Homo sapiens: one gene and its partner. The protein of the gene in region 2 binds, or shares a complex with, the protein of the main gene of each other region. Each region holds a gene or a part of one and is shown on either strand. Other genes may lie near its edges. The genes, in order: GNAS and ADCY9.

Region 1 (3,500 bases), on a different chromosome or scaffold from region 2:
ACCACCCAGACCACCCTTTAGGGACAGATGTCACTGTCTCATAGGGAATTCCTAGTTAAGAAGGAAATAGCTTTTGTTGCAATACCGCAGTGAGGAAAAAGAAAAAAGGAGGCAGTTGGATGAGATAAAAATAAGGTATCTAGGCTCCCATGAGGAATACCCCTGTAAACCCTCTCACAGGCTAAATTTAACGTATCTGTGCCCTTGTCTGCAAAGAAGGCAAACTGGGAATGTTGCTTCCTCTTTCCAAAAAGAAAACAGAAAAGAGAAGTTCTGGTTTAAAACCCTTGCCTGGTGTTACAGGCTGGCTCGCTTAGGGAGGAGAATCCTTTCTATAAAAATTTTTAAATTTTAGGGCAATCTGTAATGAAGCTGTCAGTAATTTATTTCAAAGGTGACTTAGCTTCCATCCGACTCAAGCTAAGGTAAACAGTGGCTGCTGCATCTTTGAAAAATGCTAGCCATGTCCAGTTTTCATCAAAATATTTATCTAGAGGATACATGGTCAAATTATTTTTGCTTAACTACTCTCATGAATAAGTAAGTACTCCTGCAAGTTGCAGGGGGAAAATTTATGCAAGATTTTTCTTCAAATGACAGATTCATGGTTGGAAGTCTGTCTCAGGGTTATTTATTTATTGTCAGGATGGCAGTCTCCGCTGGCAGGGCTTTATCGAGGGGTGTGTCAAGAATTAATTTCGGAATTGGTTGGTGACAAGTGATGCTGACTTACTCAATAGCACGTATGTGCATGTTGATAACCCATTGAGAGTCATAATCAGATGAGTGAAGAAGCCCCCTGTGCATCCCAACCAATCCTTCTGAATTCAGGGTTAAAGTAGAAAAAGCATCCTCAACTAACAGGACTATTCGTATGGGTGATGTCATCCTTCTCTAAACAATTATTTGATCTAACAAATTCTAGAATTCTCTATAAGGAGCTGCCTGCCTTGCTCTGAAAGGTGAAAAAGTTCACCTTTGTTTCCTGGATGCTTAGTGACTAGTAAAGGTTTTTTTGTTTGTTTTGTTTGTTTTTTTGGGGGGTGGTTGGTATAATTAAACGCTACCACCTTGACTCCAACTCCCCTTTTGAAATGGAAGCTGAAGCAACTCAAGGTTAAATTTTCAATCGAATCCAAGTTTAAGAAAGGGAACAGGACTGTGCCAACCAGCTAGTAATTACAAACTAGTGCCTTCAGGTGCTTGAAATCTAGTGCGGTTAATGCTCTCATACCAGTGAAAACAGACTGGTCAACTTAGTTTTTTTGTTTTGTTTTTTCTTTTTCTTTTTTTTTTTTTACACGTTTTGTTACACGAGAACGATGGGTAGGCCCCATCTGGGGTCTTGGGGAGAAAAGCAAGTTCCCCGATTTATTGAATGTTCCCTGTTTGCATTCCCCATGCCAGGCAGGGCTTCCTAACTCGTCTCACAGGTCTAATACAAAGTCTCTCCTGTTTAATCTTCATTCCCACTACGGATTGCCACATTGTGCTATACCAGGATACCTGGGAGGACTTCTCAAAGGCAAAAATGCCCCTCAGTGAGGCTGGGAGTGCCTAACTCCCAGTCTTTCCATCCTTTAAATAAATGTTCCCTCTTCTTTTCTGTAGGCAGGGGTACTGATTTGTTTTTTGTTTTAAAGGGAAACAATGATTTACCCATAATGGTAATTTAAAGGGGGACAAAAAAAATGAGAAACTGTAAACACGGGCTGCCACTTCCACATCTGTTTCTGGTGAGAATATTATGGAAACAATGTTTCCCTAATAGTTTAAAACATCCTGTGTTGGTTCATTACATTGAAATCTGCGTGAGGTGGGGTGGGGTGAATTTGCAGTGATCAGCGTGGGCCGGACGAGGGGGCGGCCAAAGCCACGTTGAAGACACTGCAGTGATGTCCGAAGACTGTGGCAGGGACCTGGCCCGGAGAGGGGCTGTCACGGGGCCAAGTGCTGTCAAGCGTCCCCTGCAACCAGGCACGATTTTCTTGGGATAGGGAGATGTTTGTCACAAACACTGGTGCTTTCATCAGTAGTATTTGTTGCACCAAAGATCCAAGGGGGTGGGGGGTGAGGGACCCTAAAGAGCCCTTCCCAGGATTTTCTAATATGTAAATCAGGAAAAATTAAGTGAAAACTGGCTGCCCAGCCCCCAAAGCCCACCTATACTTCCTAAAGGTTAGTATAAAGTCTGTTCCTCTTACTTGGTGCCCCCCTGCACAGATTTGACACTTACTCTCCATTAAACCCATTAACATGCAGGATCCTCATCTGCTTCACAATGGTGCTTTTACCAGATTCTCCAGCACCTAGAAAATGAAAGTAAGTCTCAGGTTATGAAGGAGGCATTTTAACACTTTGGGCAGGGAGGTCTGCTGTTGTTGTTTTGTTTTTCCATAGAAGCAACATGCAAAAAACCAAACACAAAATCACAGACTTGCAACTTTCCTTGACATTTCGACGCAGAGAAAAGGAAATCAATGTCCAATTCAGTGTCTACCTGCAGTATTTCACCATCCAAATAACAAACAAGAATTTAAGGTTTGCTGGTTTTAATTTTTCTTTTGATTGTTTAAAAAATTGTGGGGTGGTGTTGGAAAGGGGCAAAGAGAAGGAATGACGCAATTTTGTCATTTGTGGGGTAAACAAGAAAATTGAAGTTAAAACTGTGAAACTGAATCCCTGATACATGAACATTCACACATAAACATATCTAGACACATAATTTGTTGTCAGATGTTTCATGGTTAAAATACCCGGGATTCCCAACAATGCCCAGACACTGCAGTCTCTTCCACATCACGTAGCGATGCAGCACTTTCCTCCTCAACATTTTCACAACGCAGCTTCTTTCTGTGCAGGTTTCCTACCCCTTGGGCTACTTAAAAATCCACCCCTAAAACTGCATTACATTTTATCCACTTATCCATCCTCCTCTTTCCTCACAAACTATATCTTTCTAAAGATAAATTCCCTCTGGGTACAACTATGTTGCTGAGGAAAAGGGGAGACCATCAATTATCTGTCATCTTCTGGAAAAACCACACTTTAACATCAAATACAGTTCCTGAGACCCTATTAGCATTAGGTAAACTGCAAAAACAACAGTAAAAAGTAACATAAGAACAAAACTTTAATCAAAAGGAAAACTATCCCTGGGAAGTACTGAATTTGAAAGATTCCAAGCCCTTCCCAACTCAAAGAGTAGAAACACATGCCTCCATTTTAAATCATCTTTCATTTGTAAAAATACATATATGTTTCATGGAAAAAACACATTTCCATCAAGCTAGAGGGAGGATTGCTATTTTGCATCTTTTTTGCAATGCACATTCTCCAACAGATAATCCACGTGTGAAGTTTTTTTGCCCTCCTTCCACACAAATCTGTTATTACCTTTTTCTTTCTTTTTAACTTTTAATTGTATTGTTTTGTTTTAATGCCCAGATAGCACAGCATTCCTCCTTTACTTGCCTTTTCACAAGCCCGTAATCAATATC
Region 2 (4,024 bases):
TTGGTGCCTCGCCGTGTGCTGGGAGGGCACTCGCAGACCTCCAGCTCCGGATGTTGTTTCTAATTCCTGCTCCCCATCAGGCCACGTCTTTCCCCCTTCCCCAGCACCAAGAACAGTCCCTGGCAGAGCAGAGGCTGAGCGTACATTTGGTGCCTGGAGGAAGGCATGGCAAAGGTGTCTGCTGTTTGGGAGGCTCAGCAGTGCAGGGCGAGAAGCGGCCCGGACGCCTGGTTTGGCAGCCAGACCACTCGTGTCCGACCCCGGCTATGGGACCACAGCCACCTGTTCAGCCTTGCTCAGCGTCAGCTCTTTGGTAAAAGGAGGATAATCATCAGCTTCCCTACAGCATTGCTATGAGCATTAAATGAGACGATATTTTGCCTTACGGGCCACCAACCAGCCAACTGCCAACTTGCAAGTCCACTCCGGGAGCCATGTCTGGGACATTAACGGATATTCACTGTCCCTTGGAGGCTGACGGAAGGGGGCACCTCCCACCCCACGAGGCATGAACTGGCTCTACTGGGCTCACCAGGGTCTCTCTAGAGCCCAAGCCAGGACACCACGGAGTTTAATGAAGACCTGCTGGAGGAACCAAGGGAATCAGAGTGAGAAATCCCTTTTGTTCCGGGTGGGGAGGGCATCCACTCTTGACTTGGGAACACTCAGAGGTTAGGTTTGGGCCCAGAGGAGAGAATGCAGTCTGGAAGCCGCCAGGATTCAAACCAGGCTCTAGGTTCTTGTATTATTCCTTCCAGCAACCCCCTAAGGAGCACTTGTGAGCGCTGGGACTCTGCTGGAGGCTGTGAGGAGGGGCTGGAGGAGAGAGATGGGTGTTGGGACTGTGCTGGAGGCTGTAAGGAGGGGCTGGAGGAGAGAGACGGGGGTCCTACCTCACAGAGCTGAGCATCTAGGGAGGGAGGAACACGAATCCAGAACCACACACGGAAAGATTCCAAAATGGGGCACACACGGAGAAGGAAGTGTATGAAGGGAAGTACAATCCAGTCTGCAGTCGGGGAGAGCTTCTTGGAGGAAGTGGGATTGGGTGATGGGCTGAGAAGTCAAGTACAAGGGGTTAAGGCGGTGGGGGCGGGAGAGGGAACATGGAGCCGGAGTTAGAGAGAGAGGTGAAGGCCTCCTGGGCCCTTCTCAGGGGAAGAAAGCAGGGAGGGCAACAGAGAAGAGTCTCACCCAAGACTCCAGGACAGGTGGGACGGGGGCTCTTCCAGGGCAGGTCGGTGGGGAGTTCCCTTCCAGGGCAGGTGGGGGGTTCCCTTCCAGGGCAGGTGTGGGGGATTCCCTTCCAGGGCAGGTGTGGGGGGTTCCCTTCCAGGGCAGGTGTCGGGGTTCCTTTCCAGGGCAGGTGGGGAGGGGTTCCTTTCCAGGGCAGGTGGGGGACCCCTTCCATGGCAGGTGGGGGGGGTTCCTTTACCAGGGCAGGTGTGGGGGCCCCTTCCAAGGCAGGTGGGGGGGTTTCCTTCCAGGGCAGGTTGGGGGTTTCCTTTCAGGACAGGTTGTGGTGGGGGGGCCCCTTCCAAGGCTGGGGATAGCCTGGAGATGCCACGGCAGAGGAAAGGGGCTAGTAATGGCGAGGCTGCGCTTTAAGACAAAGGACTAAAGAAAGGGTTTTTTTCCTCCTTTGCAAAGAGACATTTCATGTACAGTTGCCACTTAGGGTTTACAGAGTGTGGGAAATCAATGTTCGCCTTCGTGTTCCCATCCCTTGGTAAAGCACAAAACTAACAGTGAATGACCATGTGAGAACAACAAACACATTCTTTAGTAAAAGCGCAAGGAGAAATGAACGCACCTCTTCCTGATAGCTGGTCCTGTAGGATCGCTCCAGCTCCTGATCCAGGAAGTTCAGGCTGAACTGATTAATGGGCGGCTTAAAAAAGTAATCTTTCATCAGGCTAGAAGACACAACAAATGCAGTCGATCAATACCCAGCACCATAACTGTGCCAATGTTTTCAGATCATAATTAGCTACCAAAACGCTGCTCATTAGGTATATTACAACAGCTGCGTCTAAAAGCGCCTGTGGAACAGACGCCACTCAGCTGCCCCTTGTTAAAACAGATCTGTGGAAAGTCCTTCGCACCTCAAAGCATAATCATATTTTGTGTTTCACCTTCGTTAAAGAATGACCATCCACCATGATTATAGCACACATCATCAGAACCTTGGTTTTTTGGGGTTTTTTTTTTTTGAGGCAAGGTCTCACTCTGTCGCCCAGGCTGGAGTGCAATGGCGCAGCGATCTTGGCTCACTGCAATCTCCGCCTCCCAGGTTCAAGCAATTCTCCTGCCTCAGCCTCCTGAGTAGCTGGGATTACAGGCGCCTGCCACCGCACCCAGCTAATTTTTGTATTTTTTAGCAGACGCGGGGTTTCACCATGTTGGTCAGGCTGGTCTCGAACTCCTGGGCTCAAGAGATCCACCCATCTCGGCCTCCCAAAGTGCTGGGATGACAGCGTGAGCTGCTGAGGCTTGTTTTTGAAAACACATTCCTAATGTCTAGGATTAGGAGAAGATGAAGGCAGCTTTTCTGTTCTTTGAAACAATCTTTTGTGAAGAACACGCAGATCACTGTGCTGAGAGTACTTACATGGATTTGGAGGCTTCAAACGAAAACATAATTCAGAACCGGCGGTCCTGTCATTCAGAGCACTGACAGTAATTGCCACCGTAAAAGCTAACAGGTTGTTATCACAAAATTGTGTTTATAGTTAGCGTAATTTTGGTGCTATTGTCACATATGCAGATTGCATGTGAAACCTGCAGAATGATAAAGCTCAGTGATTTTAATAGCAGGGAAATCAACCCCGCTTTCCATGACTCTTTCATTCATTTATGAATTGCCAGCAAATAGTAATATCCTTTCTATACTGCAGAAAATTACTAGAAACTAAGGGAACGTTAACATGATTTCAGAAAGCAAATATAGCTGTGTTAGCCTCTCTCCCTCATACAGTGACTATCAGAAGTAAATTAGACGAGGCTGGGCGCGGTGGCTCATCCTTGTAATCCCCAGACCTTTGGGAGGCCGAGGCAAGCGGATCACCTGAGGTCAGGAGCTCGGGACCAGCCTGGCCAACATGGTGAACCCCCGTTTCTACAAAAAATACAAAAATTAGCCAGGCCTGGTGGCAGGTGCCTGTAATCCCAGCTACTCGGGTGGCTAAGGCAGGAGAATCACTTGAACCTGGGAGATGGAGGTTGCAATGAGCCAAGATGGCGCCACTGCATTACAGCCTGGGTGACACAGCAAGACTATGTCTCAAAAAAAAAAAAAAAGAGTAAATCAGGTGAAATATGTCAAGTGCCTCATGTGCCCCCCACACAAAGTACGGCTCATCACGTGTGTTCCTTCCTGTCCTTGCAGCACGGCGGACACTCTCCTTTCTGTGACAGGTATCCAGTAACTTCCAACATTCTCAGACTCAGAAGAGAAATAATTCTGTCCCAGGACACTGACCCTCTCTCCTCCCCTGACTCAGGGAGTGTGGACTGAGGGAAGAGCAACCACGCAGCTGCAGAGAGGATGTGCACAAGGCCACATTTTAGCAGTCAAGTGGCAGAAGCGACACTGCTATTAGCTGTGCTGCTCCATTTATTTCTTATTTGTTTTTTGAGATGGAGACTCGCTCTGTTGCCCAGGCTGGAGTTGCAGTGCTGCGATCTCAGCTCATTGCAGCCTCTGCCTCCTGGGTTCAAGCGATTCTCCTACCTCAGCCTCCTGAGTAGCTGGGATGACAGGCACCCGCCACCACGCCCAGCTAATTTTTGTACTTTTAGTAGAGACGGGGTTTCACCTTGTTGGCCAGGCTGGTCTTGAACCCCTGACTTCAGGTGATCTACCTGCCTCGGCCTCCCAAAGTGTTGGGATTATAGGCGTGAGCCACAGCGCCTGGCTGAAAATCACCCTTTGAGGCATTATAGTGAAGACAGAGGCAAGAATCATCAATGAATGTTAAATCTAGGGAATTCTGATGGGGAATGAAATATGTACAAGATCTTC

The links.
Region 1: the proteins of ADCY9 (region 2) and GNAS are in contact, whole or in part, in a cryo-EM structure (PDB 9U3P), measured with the Homo sapiens proteins. Residues at the interface, in NP_001107.2 of Homo sapiens: Ala381, Phe382, Arg383, Phe1070, Glu1072, Tyr1075, Glu1076, Glu1080, Cys1081, Arg1083, Val1084, Glu1087, Asp1091, Phe1152, Asn1155, Met1156, Leu1157, Trp1158, Phe1159; in NP_000507.1 of Homo sapiens: Ile207, Glu209, Phe222, Arg228, Arg231, Arg232, Lys233, Trp234, Ile235, Gln236, Phe238, Asn239, Glu268, Leu272, Ser275, Ile276, Asn278, Asn279, Arg280, Trp281.

Annotation. Positions count from the first base shown.
Region 1 is NC_000020.11:58,894,421-58,897,920, reverse strand, and holds part of GNAS (protein GNAS), read right to left. Parts: intron 2,310-3,500; coding exon 2,237-2,309; intron 1-2,236. UniProt on the Homo sapiens protein: Guanine nucleotide-binding proteins (G proteins) function as transducers in numerous signaling pathways controlled by G protein-coupled receptors (GPCRs).
Region 2 is NC_000016.10:3,987,181-3,991,204, forward strand, and holds part of ADCY9 (adenylate cyclase type 9), read right to left. Parts: intron 1,917-4,024; coding exon 1,814-1,916; intron 1-1,813. UniProt on the Homo sapiens protein: Adenylyl cyclase that catalyzes the formation of the signaling molecule cAMP in response to activation of G protein-coupled receptors.